Regions from separate parts of the Homo sapiens genome. Here region 2 is linked to region 1. Evidence: fine-mapped expression QTL. Tissue or cell type: hypothalamus. Region 1 holds a variant in brackets; the other region holds the start of a gene. All regions are shown on one strand. Distances are between the middles of the regions.

Evidence for each region. PIP is the estimated chance that this variant, and not a neighbour inherited with it, causes the effect.
Region 2: it holds the start of TPRG1L, and the variant in region 1 is fine-mapped to the expression of TPRG1L in hypothalamus (GTEx, PIP 0.98).

What each region holds. Positions count from the first base shown.
Region 1 is chr1:3,798,624-3,806,726 of GRCh38, reverse strand. No RefSeq gene overlaps it. Among named protein-coding and RNA genes, the nearest start is that of LRRC47, 6.2 kb to the right of the region's middle. The variant C/T (reference allele first, on the strand shown) is at 4,804.
Region 2 is chr1:3,620,121-3,628,214 of GRCh38, reverse strand. TPRG1L (tumor protein p63 regulated 1 like) reads right to left here and starts at 3,200. Exons shown (of 5, transcript NM_182752.4): 1 at 2,942-3,200; 2 at 2,700-2,791; 3 at 2,326-2,502; 4 at 562-715. The coding sequence starts at 3,142. It also overlaps a transcript of MEGF6 not described here. RefSeq lists enhancers at 2,164-2,826, 3,807-3,926 and a silencer at 3,127-3,356.

The DNA of each region.
Region 1 (8,103 bases):
GAAAAACCAGGCCATACAGAGATGGGGGCTGAGGGGACATGGTGAGAAGTGACCAGAAGACGATAGTGCGAGCCTTCTGTTATGCCCAGACAGGGTCACCAGAGGGCTCCTTGGTCTAGCGGTAACACCAGCGTCTGGGAAGATGCCCGTTGCCAGGCAGACCGTGGTCTAGCAGTAGCATCAGTGTCAAGGAAAAACACCTGCTACTTAGGAGTCTCCCTTTCCCTGGGGGAGTTTAGAGAAGACTCTGCTCCTCCACCTCTTGTGGAGGGCCTGACATCAGTTAGGCTCGCCCGCAGTTATCCGGAGGCCTAACCGTCTCCCTGTGATGCTGTGCTTCAGTGGTCACGCTCCTAGTCCGCCTTCATGTTCCATCCTGCACACCTGGCTTTGCCTTTTAGATAACAGTAGCAAATTAGTGAAAGTACTAAAAGTCTATGATAAGCAGAAATAATGGCGTAAGCTGTCTCTCTCTCTCTCTCCCCCTCTCTCTCTGCCTCGGCTGCCAGGCAGGAAAGGGCCCCCTGTCCAGTGGACATGTGACCCACATGACCTTACCTATCATTGGAGATGACTCACACTCTTTACCCTGTCCCTTTTGGTTTGTATCCAATAAATAACAGTGCAGCCAGGCATTCGGGGCCACTACCGGTCTCCGCGTCTTGGTGGTGGTGGTCCCCCAGGCCCAGCTGTCTTTTCTTTTTATCTCTTTGTCTTGTGTCTTTATTTCTACAATCTCTCATCTCCGCACATGGGGAGCAGAACGCACCAACACTGTGGGGCTGGTCCCTACATCCGGCGCTCCAACGTGGGGCTCTCTCTCGCTGTGTGAAGTTGCACCCTGAGTGTGGGATTCAGCAGAGGATTTTGACCAGAGATTCCTGAGGATTGTGGTCAGTAAGCTTGGTGGTAAGCTAGAGCACTCAGAGTATTCCGGGGACACCATGGGACAAGCCAGTACTAAGTACTCAGCTTATTTAAGCTTTATAAAAACCCTCCTGTTTTATCTCAACCCTGTCCCTGTTCAGCCCTGCTGTAGGGGTCTCAACCTTCTGCCTGTTCCGCCCGGTAATGAGGCCCTCAACCCTATCCCTCCATAGCCTGGTTTTCTCATGCCTGTTTCCTTTCCTCCTAATCAGACTCGGTTAGAGTCACAGGCTCCCTTGAAACCTGGTTCCTTTCCTACTAATCCGACTCCCCTGGAGTCACAGACTCCTTTGAAGCCTGGTCCGCAGTTGCCACAGCAGCCTGAATTTCAGGCCCATGAAGGACGTGCTCGGCAGGTAATCTCGTCTACCCTTGCTGCTCACAAGCAACAAGTTACATAGATTCCTCAAAATGACACTCCTCTTATGAGGGCTATAGCACAGGCAAGAAAATATGGGGATCCCAACGCCTGGCAATTTCCTGTAATTTTACAACCTCCAATACCTGCCGTCCCTGCGGCACAAAATCAGCCACAGCCTGCTGATCTTACTCAGCAGGCAGCTGATCTCGCGGCACCTTCACGCTCCGTGTTAATATCTTGTTTTTCTGCAGGACAACAAACAGTTGCAGCAGCCGGTTTGGTTACTGCGCCCCCTCCACAAAAAAAAAATCCAGACTTCTTCTCCTTATCACTATTTAGCAATGCAGCTAGAAGTCAGGTTATTAAGCCCAAAAAAATCATTGTTCCCCTCACCCGATTAGAAGTTCAACAGGCTTTTGCAACCTGTATCACTTGGCAAGTACACTTGGCAGGTTTCTCGGGTATAATTGACAATCACTATCCTAATGTAAAATTATTTCAGTTCCTTAAACTCACTTCTTGGATTTTACCTAACATTACTAGAAACACCCCATTAGCTGAAGCTGTCACTGTTTTTACTGATGCTTCCTGTAATGGCCGAGCAGCATATACAGGTCCCAGAGAACGTGTTCTTAACACAGGGGCTATTTCAGCACAACGAGCTGAACTGCCTGCTGTTATGACCGTCTTTGAAGATTTCCCTGAACCAGTTAACATTGTCTCTGACTCAGCGTATGTAGTACATGTTGCTCGCAACATTGAAACTGCCTTAATCCAATTTCTGCCCGATGATAACCTATTCTTTCTTTTTCAAAGGTTTCAGTCTGTGCCCAGAGCAAGGTCTTCTCCTTTCTACATTGCTCACATTCGGGCCCACACACCCCTCCCCAGACCCCTCTCGGCAGCAAATGCCAGAGCTCATACATTAGTTCCTCCCGTTTTTACAGATGCAGAAAATTTTCATGCTTTAACACCTGTCAATGCTGCAGGACTCCGGAAAAAGTTCCCCTTACATGGAAACAAGCTAAAACCATTGTTCGTCACCGTCCTACTTGCCAAGTGTTAATCTTACAGCCACTTTCCTCAGGAGTTAACCCTAGAGGACTTTCACAGAATGCTCTCTGGCAAATGGACGTGACTCATTATCCTGCTTTTGGCAAGCTTTCTTTTATACATGTAACTATCGACACTTTTTCTCATTTTATCTGGGCCACTTGTCACGCAGGGGAAAGTACAGCTCATGGTAAACGACATATGCGTTCCTGTTTCTCCGTTATGGGCTGTCCCGAGAAACTGAAAACTGATAACAGCCCCAGCTACACTAGTGCTGCTTTTAAAAAGTTCACTGAGACGTGGGCAATTGCTCACACAACCAGCATCCCCTGTAACTCTCGAGGACAGGCCTCGGTGGAACGAGCCAATAAAACACTGAAAGGTCAACTTCGAAAGCAGGACATAAAACAAAGGGGGATGGCACCACACCTCATGCTCAGTTAAACCTGCCTCTTTTTACACGAGCTTTCTTACACCCAGCAAGAAACCAAACTTTACAGCCACAGAACCACATGTCACTGGAAATAAATTTGATCCACAAAAACGAATGCGGGTATGGTGAAAGGACGCAAAAACTAACAAATGGGAATTAGACAGAGTCATAACTTGGGCTAGGGCTTTCGCTTGTGTTTCCCCAGGAAAAGGACAACAACCCGCGTGGGTTCCCTCCCAGCGACTGAAATTGCATTATAACTCCAAGGATGAGGCACTCTGAGAAACAAAAGGACTGCCAGCCTGCTCCAAGAAACCTACAAAGGGGCCTTTTTTCTTTTTTTAACTAAATTCAATCTTATGAAATGATTCTAATACTCCGAAGGCCATACTGTTCCAAACCCTACCTACGGGTGTTGTTATTGACTGGGCTCCAAAAGGGCATTATTGGCGAAATTGCTCCACCCAAAATACAAAATGCTCGGAGTTTAACTATTTGTTAGATTATATAGAGGATGGGCCGGGCACAGTGGCTCATGCCTGTAATCCCAGCACTTTGGGAGGCCGAGGCGGGTGGATCACAAGGTCAGGAGATCAAGATCATCCTGGCTAACACAGTGAAAACCCGTCTCTACTAAAAAACAAAAAATTAGCTGGGCGTGGTGGCAGGCGCCTGTAGTCCCAGCTACTCGGGAGGCTGAGGTAGGAGAATGGCGTAAACCCAGGAGGCAGAGCTTGCAGTGAGCCAAGATCGCGCCACTGCACTCCAGCCTGGGCAACAAAGCAAGACTCCATCTCAAAAAAAAAAAGAAAGAAAAGAAAAAAGATCATATAGAGGATGGATGGCAGTCATACAGGTTGAGACAATGGGTGTCTCCTTACCCATTTAAATGGATGGACGCAGGCATTGTTCCCCCTACACCAAAAATGATTCATCCCATTGTTACCCCAGAACATCCTGAATTATGGAAATTGCTGCAGCTATGACAGGAATAAGGATACGGAACACTACCTATCAACTCCTTCACACTAATACCAAAACACACACATTCAACATCACCTTGATATCTGAACAGGTGATACCCATCAGGAGCTGTGTCAAACCCCCTTACATGCTGTTGGTTGGAAATATAATTATCATTCCCAGTACACAAACTGTAGAATGTGATAACTGTCAGCTGTTCACATGCATTGATGCTACTTTCATTCCCACTACAAGTATTCTCTTGGTACGGGCTAGGGAGGAGGTATGGATACCAGTTTCTCTACATCGTCCTTGGGAGTCTTCCCCCTCTATTCACATAGTCAATGAAGTTCTTAAAGTTATCCTCAAAAGAACAAAGAGATTTATTTTTACTCTTATTGCCGTCATTGCAGGTCTAATTGCAGTTACTGCAGCAGCAGCAGCTGCTGGAGTTGCCATCTACAATTATGTTCAAACCGCTCAATATGTTAAAGCACGGCAGAAAAACTCCTCCGGACTTTGGAATTCTCAGGCTCAAATTGATAAAAAATTAGCCAATCAAATTAATGATCTCCGTCAAAGTGTAATGTGGCTCAGAGACAGAGTTATGAATTTGGAACACCTTATGCAATTACAGTGTGATTGGAATACTTCTGACTATTGCATAATGCCTTATGCTTATAATAAAGGTCAACATAGCTGGGAAAAGGTCTCAAGACATTTAAAAGCCTGGGATGATAACTTAACCTTGGATATTTCAAAACTTAAAGAGCAAATTTTTGAGGCTTCACAAGCTCATTCATCCACTGTTCCTGGCTCAGACATTTTTGAAGGAATAACTAAAGAATTATCTGATCTTAATCCCTTTAAATGGATCAAACCCCTTGGAGGATCATTGTTGTCACTGGCATTATTAGTATTGGTATGCTTATGTTGTCTCCGTTTAGTCTGCAGATGCCTCCAAGGAGTCCGAAAACAAGTCCGAAGTCAATGACAAGCAATGATGGCGATGGTGATCCTAGTTAATATAAAGGGGGGAGATGTGGGCAGCAAGCCACCCAGGTGC[C/T]GAGGCAAGAGACTGAGGGCACGAGCTGTTCCAGTATAATAAAATATATAAAACAACAAGAGTTATGCTAGATCTAGATCATAGACATGATTATATATGAATATCATTAATCATTAGTTTGTAGCAATTACTCTTTATTCCAATATTATAATAATCCTCGCTCTATAATCATAACCTAGGAAAAAGCAGGCCATATAGAGATGGGAGCTGAGGGGACATGGTGAGAAGTGACCAGAAGACAAGTGCGAGCCTTCTGTTATGCCCGGACAGGGCCACCAGAGGGCTCCTTGGTCTAGCGGTAACACCAGCGTCTGGGAAGATGCCCGTTGCCAAGCAGACCGTGGTCTAGTGGTAGCGTCAGTGTCAAGGAAAAACACCTGCTACTTAGCAGACCGGGAAAGGGAGTCTCCCTTTCCCCGGGGGAGTTTAGAGAAGACTCTACTCCTCCACCTGCATCTGTAAAAACGGGAGTAACTAATGTATCAGCTCTAGCATTTGCTGCGAGAGGGGTCCGGGGAGGGGTGTGTGGGCCCAAATGTGAGTAATGTAGAAAGGAGAAGACCTTGCTCTGGGCACAGACTGAAACCTTTGAAAAAGAAAGAATAGGTCATCATCAGGCAGAAATTGGATTAAGGCAGTTTCAATTGTTGTGAGCAACATGTAGTACCTACGCTGAATCAGAGACAATGTTAACTGGTTCAGGGAAATCTTCAAGGACGGTCATAACAGCACAAATCTCATCTTGAATTGTACTCCCATAATTCCCACAGGTTGTGGGAGGGAGAAGGTGGGAGGTAATTTGAATCATGGGGGCAGTTTCCCCCACACCGTTCTCAAGGTAGTGAATAAGTCTCATGAGATCTGATGGTTTTATCAGGGGTTTCTGCTTTTGCATCTTCTTCATTTTCTCTTGCCACCGCCTTGTAAGAAGTGCCTTTCACCTCCCGTCATGATTCTGAGGCCTCCCCAGCCATGTGGAACTGTAAGCCCAATTAAACCTCTTTTTCTTCTTAGTCTCAGGTATGTTTTTATCAGCAGTGTGAAAATGTACAAATACACCTAGTGAGGAGAGGGGCAGCCTATCTTGCTACTTTCTGACAACCAGATGGACCTAGTCTTGGCCATTGGGATGCAGACTGTGCCTAAGCACCCTCAGAGGGGGGTGCAACACTAAACAGAGACACAAACACAAATAGATCCAATGTAGACACAGCCCTCCAAACAGATCCCTCCAAACAGAGGGGAGATTGGAGCAAAGTCCTGAGGTCCTGTCCCAGACCCAGACAGCACCATGGAGTGACCTGCGTTAGGTCCAGATGGCACAGAGACCCAGGCAGCACCACAGAGTGACCTGCGTTAGGTCCAGATGGCACAGAGACCCAGGCGGCACCACAGAGTGACCTGTGTTAGGTCCAGATGGCACAGAGACCCAGGCGGCACCACAGAGCGACCTGCGTTAGGTCGAGATGGCACAGAGACCCAGGCGGCACCACAGAGTTACCTGCGTTAGGTCCAGATGGCACAGAGACCCAGGTGGCACCACAGACTACCAATACTAGCTCTAGACAGCTAGAGCCCCAGATGGCAGATGCAGAGGATTTCCAGGTGCACTTCAGTTCACATCCCACATACTGCTTCCCTCCCACCAGCAGAGCATGAGAGATGCTGATGTCATGAAGGAGAGGGAAGGGAAAATCCCCAAGACAAAGGCAGTCTCGGCAGCCACTAGGAATTCCCTAAGGTCCTAGCCTTGGGGTCAGCTGGCCATGAGCAGCTGGCATTTTCAAGCAGCTGCTGTCCTGCCTGACAGCAAGAGTGGGTAAATCCTGGGACTGCTGTGGCCAATCTCTGCCTTCATTGGAAACCAGGTACACAGGCTGAGCCACTCACAACACAGTGCCTCACACAAGGCACCAGATCTGCAACCAGCTCAAGCGTGGCTGCTCAAAGACCAAAAACATGAGAAGCGAGGTGTGGTGGAAGGAAAGCCGTTTATTAAACAAATGCCAGCCGATGGGACATGGCTGGGCTCATGCCTCCAAGAGACCCTCTGTCTTCTGGGCTGAGTGAGAGGTTTTGGAAGGAAAACTTGGTGTGGGAAACATGTGGGGGTGGTGCAGGAGGATGCAGAAGGGTGCAAGGGGGTGCAGGGGGGTGCAGGGCTGCATGTCTTGTTCCGAAGGTGATCTCGAGTAACACCCTGTCTGAAGGTCCAGCTTGCATCATCCTGACTTTGGCCCAGTAGTGGTGGGCTCACTCTTCCTAACTGCCCCAGAGCAGTAGGATCCACATCTGGGTCTCTGAGCCTGGTTTCCTTCAAAATTAGCCCCTGGAAGTTCTTTTTTTTTTTTTTTTTTTTTTTTTTTTTTTTTTGAGATGGAGCCTCCCTCTGTTGCCCAGGCTGGAGTGTAATGGTGCAATTTCAGCTCAGTGCAACTTCTGCCTCCTGGGTTGAAGCTCCTGCCCTAGCCTCCAAGTAGCTGGGATCACGGGCGCCCACCACCCCACCTGGCTAATTTTTGTATTTTTAGTTAAGACGGGGTTTCACCATGTTGGCCAGGCTGGTCTTGAACTCCTGACCTCAGGTGATCCGCCTGCCTCAGCCTCCCAAAGTGTTGGGATTACAGGAGTGAGCCACCGCGCCCGGCCTGTAAATGGTTTTTGTTTTTTTCTTTGTTTATTTATTTATTATCAGAGTTGATTCTCTCCTGGATCAGGAAAAAGGCCTAGCAAAGCAAGGATACTATCTTCAGAATGTGGATTTCCCCCACAATAGGCAGCCTTGCAGGATTGTTTTAAGATACAGCAAGGAAATATAATTTGGGGTAAAATACTTCAATTTCCTTCAGGGCCTTGATCAGTCACATAATGCTCTACTAGAAACAGGCTAGAATTTGGTATCATTGCTACAAAGAGTCAGCTTTGTCAGTCTTTTATTGTTGTTGTTATTTTGAGATGGAGTCTCGCTCTGTCACCCAGGCTGGAATGCAGTGGTGCAATCTTGGCTCACTGCAACCTCCGCCTCCTAGGTTTAAGCAATTCTCCTGCCTCAGCCTCCCGAGTAGCTTGGATTACAGGCGCCCGCCACCATGCCCAGCTAATTTTTGTATTTTTAGTAGGGATGGGTTTTCACCATGTTGGTCAGGCTGGTCTCAAACTCCTGACCTCAAGTGATCCACCCGCCATGGCCTCTCAAAGTGCTGGGATTACAGCCATGAGCCACCACACCTGGCCTGGCTTTGTCAGTCTTAAAGTCTGTGTTGATATTAATGATGGTCAGGTGGGCCTGAATTCCCAAAG
Region 2 (8,094 bases), 180 kb after region 1:
TGTGGAAATCTTGCCACCATGCTCTCCTGTGGCCAATGGCAGCCAGCACCTGCAGAACCCTTCCTGTATACAGGGCTGAGTGGCTTTGCCGTCACCCAACCTACCAGGTCAGTAACCAGGCCGAGGCACACAGCTGGGGAAGTGCAGGACCCCCGCCAGGCTCTGGGCTCTGGGCTCTGCTCTAACCCCAGCCCCGAGGCCTCCTCTCCTGGTGCGCATCCGCACTGGTCATCTGGCACGGCTGGGTCTGCTGCCACTCTCTGAAGCCCAGCTGGGGCCCTTCCCCACCCAGATCACCATCAGGAGGCCACATTATGGAGCTATGCTAACCAGCAGCCACTGGCCACATGCGGCTACTTTAACATAAATTAACCAGAATTTCTGACAACTTAGGGAATCAACTCTAAAATGAGAGCTTCCTCTCTCATTTCTAGCCACGTCTCAAGTGCTCGGCAGCTCCGCGTGGCCGCCGGACAGTGCAGACCTGAAGTGTCTCCGTGACTGCGGGGGGTGTTTCCATCACTGCGGGGGGCGCGGCTATTTATGTGCCTGTCTTCTTACCTGACACAGAGATGCTGTCTTCTCATCTGCGCCAGCCATCGGGTGTTCTGTGAAAGTGGCATAGGGCACGTTGGTAGACCAGGGATTCCATCTGTTTATGAAGGAAGGACGACTTTGCTTGTCCCACTGAATTCGAATCCCAAAACCTTCTCGCCTGAAAAGTCAGAAGAAATAGCCAGACTTAGCATGGCAGGCCACAGTGCTCTCATGGACAATCTGACAGTCTCATCAGTTAGGAGAATATGACAGCAAAAAGCACACGTTTACAGAAAAGACCTATGACATATCACAATGGAAAACGGCTTGTAGTTTTTATTTTTGTTTTTATTTATTTTTATTTTTTGAGATGGAGTTTTGCTCTTGTTGCCCAGGCTTGAGTGTAGTGGCCTGATGTTGGCTCGCTGCATCCTCCACCTCCTGGGTTCAAGCGATTCTCCCAACTCAGCCTCCGGAGTAGCTGGGATTACAGGCATGCACCACCACACCCAGCTAATTTTGTATTTTTAGTAGAGACAGGGTTTATCCATTTTGGTCAGGCTGGTCTCAAACTCCTGACCTCAGGTGATCCGCCCGCCTCAGCCTCCCAAGGTGCTGGGATTACAGGCGTGAGCCACCGTGCCTGGCCGGCCTGTGGTTTTTAGTAGTAACTTCAATCTCCACTAACAATTGCTTTAAATACTGTGGGTATAAATATGACAAATTAGGTATATTTTGGTTATTAAATGTATTATTTTGGTAATCTTTACATGATTAAAAATTAATAAACAGGAATACTGGCTGGGCACGGTGGCTGACATCTATAATCCCAGCGCTTTGGGAGGCCAAAATGGGCGGATCTCTTGAGCCCAGGAGTTTGAGAACAGCCTGGGCAACCTAGCAAAACCCCATCTCTACAAAAAATACAAAAATTAGCTGGGTGTGGTGGCGGGCACCTGTAGTCCTAGCTACTTGGGAGGCTGAGGTGAGAGGATCACTTAAGCCTAGGAGGTGGAGGATGCAGTGAACCAAGACTGCACCACTGGTGCCTGGGTGACAGAGTGGGACTCCGTCTCAAAAAAAAAAAAAAAAGGGAATAATTATAGATAGGCTAGCCAAATGAGTGAAAAGGAAGTGTAATCTTCCTTTTCCTTATGTCATATTAAATGTTTTAACCAAAAGGTAAAATTTTTATTTTAGCTTCCTGAATCCCCCATCCAAATCTCTCCATCAAAAACCCAAGTTCTACAGCTTAACTGACTGTAGTAATGTTTAGGTTCCTCACGTCAGAAAATTATCCTACAGCAAAAAGATCAACTCCTGAAAGCTGGTCATTAAATATTTCCAAATTTGTCTTTTAGTGGTATCTATAAATTACAACGGGACCCTCCATTTCTCTTTAAAAAATTAGCCAGAGCAAGACTTGATGTGTCATATGCAATCTGTCCCTGGCTGGAGAAAAATGCAGAGTTTGGACTTTTCCTGAAGAACATCCAAGTTCCTTTTTAACACGCTGGGCTCTACTTCAATGCATCCTGAACTCATGTAAGTCTTTTTACTACCAGCCTAATAGCTGCCTTCTGTGCCAGAATTCCTTTTAATGCACTCAATTGCCCAGAAGTCGCTTCTTTTTAAGGAACTTCCCATTGATATTTGGAGCTGGAGCCTTTGTGCTTATAATTAATGACAGAGAAGACACACCGCTTGGGGGGCTGATTTAAAAGGGCTGAATTGTAAGGTCCACTCTGGTGCTTAGGTCCAGTGATACTGGACTCTGAACAGGCTTACTTGTTGAGCGATTTAGGGGGAAACTGGAATTCTCCGTAGGAAATGGTGTCTACTGCGTTGAGCGCTATCCGCACCACCTGCTGGCACTGGAGACTGATGAAGTCGTATTTACAGATAAGCAGGGACTGCTCCGTGACCAGCACCAGCCGCTCCTTCTCATTGTTCCAGTGATCCACCCTGTAGGCAGAGGAGGGGCCTCAGTCCACACTGGACGCGGCTGTCTCGACTTAGCCAAGGCCAGCCCGCCTGGAAGGGCAGCAGGGGCGGCACGGGGCGCCTGAGCGTGGCACGAGCACCCCGGGAAGTCCTCGCAAGGTGCTGCGCGGCGGCTCGGGGCGAGTCCCCCCACCAAGGAGAGCGCAGCCCCGGCTTACTCGGTAAGCAGCCACACTCCCTGGATCTCGCCGTCCTCCACGGGCCGCACCACCACGCGGATCTCCTCCACTGCCTGCTCGATGCTGCCGGGCTGGGCGGGTTGCGGGGTGGGGGACGGGGGCAAAGATCACAGGTCACAGCTCGCTCCCTGCGGGACCGCCCGGCGCCCGCCTCCGACCCCACCCGCCCCCATCCCGCCCCGCGCCCTCGGCCCCCGCCCCGGCCCTGGCCCCTGCCTCACCCGGAACACGAAGTACTCCTTGACGCGGGCGCGGCGCGTGGGGTCGTGGATGCTGAGAGGCCAGAGTGTCTGGCGCAGCGGCGTCCCCGCCCCCGGCCGCCCCCCGCCCGGGCCGCCGCCTGCCCCCACCTCCTCGCCGGCCGCCAGCACCGCCGTGGGGCTCGTACCGGCCGAGTCCACCGAGTCCCGCAGTTGCAGCATTGCCGCACCCCTTACCGACCCCGACCCTGACGCCGACGCGACCGCCGTCGCCGCAGCCACCGCCACCACCCGGCCGCGCCCCCGGCCCCGCCCCGCGGACCGCCGCGATTGGCTCCGCCTTGCCGGCCCCGCCTCTGGCTCCGCCCCTTCCCGCGTCCGCCGACCCTCGGGATTGGCTCTCCTCCTGCCGTTTTCCGCGATTGGCTCTGCCCCGCCGCCGTTCACAATCGCTCCCGCCCCTCGCCGGGCCGGAAGCGACCGTCACGCGCAGGCTCACTTCCTGTTTACACAACGAGAAGGGGCGGGGCCGAAGCCGGTTGCCAGGGTGTCGCGGAGCGGCTGGGAAGGAGGGGCTGGGAATCTTGGAGCCCCTTGGCCCGCGGGGAAAGCGGGTGACCCGCCCTGCAAGTGGGATGCCCCCTTCGGCCTTCTGGAGCGCAGGTGGGGGCGCGCGCCCATCGGGGGCTCGCACTGCACGGAGGGTCGCGGTGCCGGGGAGCTGAGGTTGGAGGATGCAGGGCGGCGGCCCTGGTGCACCGTGGGGGAGTTCGCACGCCGGGCAGCGATCTTCTGCCGGGACCTGGCGTTCTTCACACACGGCTTATTCGTGACGGATCCACAGAGCAATGCACTCTGAAGCCGGAGGGTAGAAAGTGCTGGAATGCGCGCCCGGGCCCAGGCTGTCGCGAGCCTTCAGCAAGCCAGTGCACACAGAGAGGGCTGCCCAGAGATCCCGGTCAGCGCTCGCAGTTCGAGGTGGAACATGTGTGTGCCCTGCGCTAGCCCCAGCTCCCGGAGGTGCCCCCAGCGCGTGTGGAGGGGGGCGGTGAACGGACCCGCAATCTGGTGGAGGCTGCGGGAAGGAGGCGCAGAGTCCAGGGGTCAGGGTTACCTTCGGGCAGGAGGACAGATCCCTCTGCTCGGAGGTGAGGAAGACACACGAGGCGAGGTGCACACAGGCGAGGAGAGTGAGATGGGGGGAGAATGAGGAGTTCAGGATACATCTGTTTACTTCAGTCAGGGAGTGGGGATGGAGCGGAGTATTTGTAAAGATGGACGGTTTAGAATCGCCGGGATGAGAACCGGGCAGGGAGCTGATCAGGGAAGGGCATGGGGATCTCTGAGCAGCTGGGAGACCCCAGGGAAGTTTGCAGTGGCGCCTCCCACGCGGCAGCTGGGGGAGTGGAAGAAACCAATGCTGGCTGGTCTAGATGGAGGAGTTTGCTGGGTAGCGGTGGTCAAAGACCAGAGAGAAAAGGGAGGCCAAAATCCTAGAGGGAGTGTTGCCCAAGAATGGTGGAGTGCAGGGATTCTGCCCCACTTGCCAGCAGACAGGCCAGGCTGCCAAAGTTGCATGGGCGCTGGCAGAAAGACCCAATACCCCTGGAGTCAGAGAGGAAAGACTACAACAGGAAACGGGCGACGCTGGTGTGCCCAGACGCATGTTGCACCACAGCGGGTGCACTACAAAACAGGACCCTGGATCCTGTGGACCAATGTGGTCTTTGTCCCACAGGGAGGCTGTCTCCCCGGCAAGGGTGCCCACTGCAAGCACAGGCGTGAGAAATGGCCCAGAAAAGAGTGGTCAGGGCAATGTGTTCTTGGCACGCCCAGCAAGACCTGCCAGAGGGACCTACAGACGAGTGTCTCCCAGCTATCTTACCAGCGGGGACCTTGAGGTCCAAGTATCCAGTCCGGTTAGAAATGGCCGCGGATCCAACAGGTGCTGGTGAGTGGGAGAATACCCCTGAGGGAGGAAGAACAGAGGCCGGGAGGGAGCTGAGTGGATGTAGATGAGAAATACCTGGACAGCTGCAAGCTGTAGTCAGTGATGGGCAACTGGAACCAGAGATTCCAGAGAGAGGGAGGGAGAAAGAGGGAGGAGAAGGGAGAATGAGAAAGAGAGGGAGAGAGAATGGGGGGGAGAAAGAGGGAGAATGGGGGAGAGAGGTAGGAGCAAGTTCTGGACCACGCCAAGGATGGAGCTGTGGTCCTGGAACCAGATGTCCAGGGAATGGGATGAAGTGACACTGGCTGGGGCCGAGGCTGCAGACTGCTGGTGGGAGCTGGCAGGACAATGAGGATTCTGAACCAGGTGCCTGAGCCTTCTGTGGATATGGGGAGTGACTTGGATGTCTATAAATTCCAGAAATGATAGGAGGGATAGATGATGGAGGGACTGTATTTTAGACAATAAACAAATTTCACTCAGTATGGATGAGTTTCCTGGGGCTTCTGTCACAATGCATCACAAACTGGTTTTAAAAACAACAACTGTTTTAAAAACAACAGAAACGTGTTTCCTCATAGCCCTGGAGGCCAGAAGTGCAAAATCAAGGAGTGTGCAGGGCCATGCTCCCTCTGCAGCCCTGAGGGTTGACGCATGTCTTGCTCTGCCAGGCCTGCTTGGTGTCCTGGGCTTGCTCATGCACTGCTCCCATCCCTGCCTCCATCTTCACACGACCTTCTCCAGGTGGGTCTCTTCTGCAACATCCCTGTTGGATTAGGGACCACCCTAGTGACCTCATCTTTAGTCGATCATCATCATGTTTGATCAAATAAGGTCACTGTGTTTGTTTGTTTTCCCACTGCTATTAATATGAAGAACTTACCTGAAGCTGGGTAATTTATAAAGAAAAGAGGTTTCATTGACTCACAGTTACACATGACTGGGGAGACCTTAGGAAACTTACAATCATGGCGGAAGGCAAAGGGGAAGCAAGGCACGTCTTACATGGCGGCGGGGGTAGTGGGATGTGCCACACTTAAACCATCAGATCTTGTGAGAACTATGACAAGAACAGCACGGGGGAAATCGCCCCCATGCTCCAATCACCTCCCACCAGGTCCCTCCCTCGACATGTGGGGATTACAATTCGAGATGAGATTTGGGTGGGGACACAGCTAAACCATATCATTCTACCCCGGCCCCTCCTAAATCTCATGTCCTTTTTACATTTCAAAACCAATCATGCCCTCCCAACAGTCCCCCAAAGTCTTATTTCAGCATTAACTCAAAAGTCCACAGTCCAAAGTCTCATCTGAGACAAAGTCCCTTCTGCCTATGAACCTGTAAAATCAAAAACAAGTTAGTTACTTCCAAGGTATAATGGAGGTACTGGCACTCGGTAAATGGTCCCATTCCAAAAGGGAGAATTTGGCCAAAACAAAGGGGCTAAAAGCCCCATGCAAGTCCAAAATCTAGTGGGTTAGTCATTATATCTTACAGCTCCAAAATAATCTCCTTTGACTGCATGTCTCACATCCAGGGCCACACTGATGCAAGGGGTGGGCTTCCAAGGCCTTGGGAAGCTCTGCCCCTGAGTGCCTACGGCTTTTCCAGGTGCAGGGTGCAAGCTGCTGGTAGATCTACCATTCTGGGGTCTGGAGGACAGTGTCCCCCTTCTCGTAGCTCCACTAGTCAGTGCCTGTGGGCAGCAAGCCACCCCGGTGCTGAGGCAAGAGACCGAGGGCACGAGCTGTTCCGGTGTAATAAGATATATAAAATAACAAGAGTTATACTAGATCTAGATCATAGATATGATTATATGTAAATATCATTAATCATTAATTTGTAGTAATTGCTCTTTATTCCAATATTATAATAATCCTCGCTCTACAATCATAACCTAGAAAAAACCAGGCCGTACAGAGATGGGAGCTGAGGGGACATGGTGAGAAGTGACCAGAAGACAAGTGCGAGCCTTCTGTTATGCCCGGACAGGGCCACCAGAGGGCTCCTTGGTCTAGCGGTAACACCAGCGTCTGGGAAGACGCCTGTTACCAAGCGGACCGTGGTCTAGTGGCAGCGTCAGTGCCAAGGGAAAAGCACCCACTACTGAGCAGACCAGGAAAAGGAGTCTCCCTTTCCCCAGGGGAGTTTAGAGAAGACTCTACTCCTCCACCTCTTGTGGAGGGCCTGACATTAGTCAGGCTTGCCCACAGTTATCTGGAGGCCTGTCTCCCTGTGATGCTGTGCTTCAGTGGTCATGCTCCTGGTCCGCTTTCATGTTCCATCCTGTACACCTGGCTCTGCCTTTTAGATAGCAGGTGCAAAATTAGTGGAAGTACCAGAAGTCTCTGATATGCGGAAATAATGGCGTAAGCTGTCTCTCCTCTCTCTCTCCGCCTCAGCTGCCAAACGGGGAAGGGCCCCCTGTCCAGTGGACATGTGAACCACGTGACCTTACCTATCATTGGAGATGAGTCACACTCCTTACCCTGCCCCCTTGTCTTGTACCCAATAAATAACAGCGCAGCCAGGCATTCGGGGCTGCTACCGGTCTCCGCGCCTTGGTAATAGTGGTCCCCCAGGGCCCAGCTGTCTTTTCTTCTATCTCTTTCTCTTGTGTCTTTATTTCTACGATCTCTCATCTCTGCACATGGGGAGAAAGACCCACTGACCCTGTAGGGCTGGTCCCTACAAGTGCCCCAGTGGGGACTCCGTGTGTGGAGGCTCCCACCCCACATTTCCCCTCTGCATTGCCCTAGCAGAGGTTCTCCATGAGGGCTCTGCCCCTGCAGCAGACTTCAGCCTGGACTTCTAGGTGTTTCCATACATCCTCTGAAATCTAGGCAGAGTCTCCCGAAGTTCACCTCTTGTCTTCTGCACACCTACGGGCTCCGCCTGGGCTGTCCCTTGACCCCTTTTGGCCCTGACTGGAGCTGATTTTGCCCCCAAGGCCTCTGGGCCTGTGATGGGAGGGTCTGCCGTGAAGCTCTCTGAAATGTCTTGGAGACATTTCTACAGCTGATGGCTTGAATTTCTCCCCCAGACAATGGGTTTTCTACCACATAGTCAGGCTGCAAATTTTCCAAACTTTTATGTCCTGCTTTGCTTTTAAACATAAGTTCCAATTTCAGATCATCTCCTTGTGAACGCACATGACTGTACACTTTCAGAAAAAGCCAGCTCACATCTCAAATGCTTTGCCGCTTAGAAATTTCTTCTG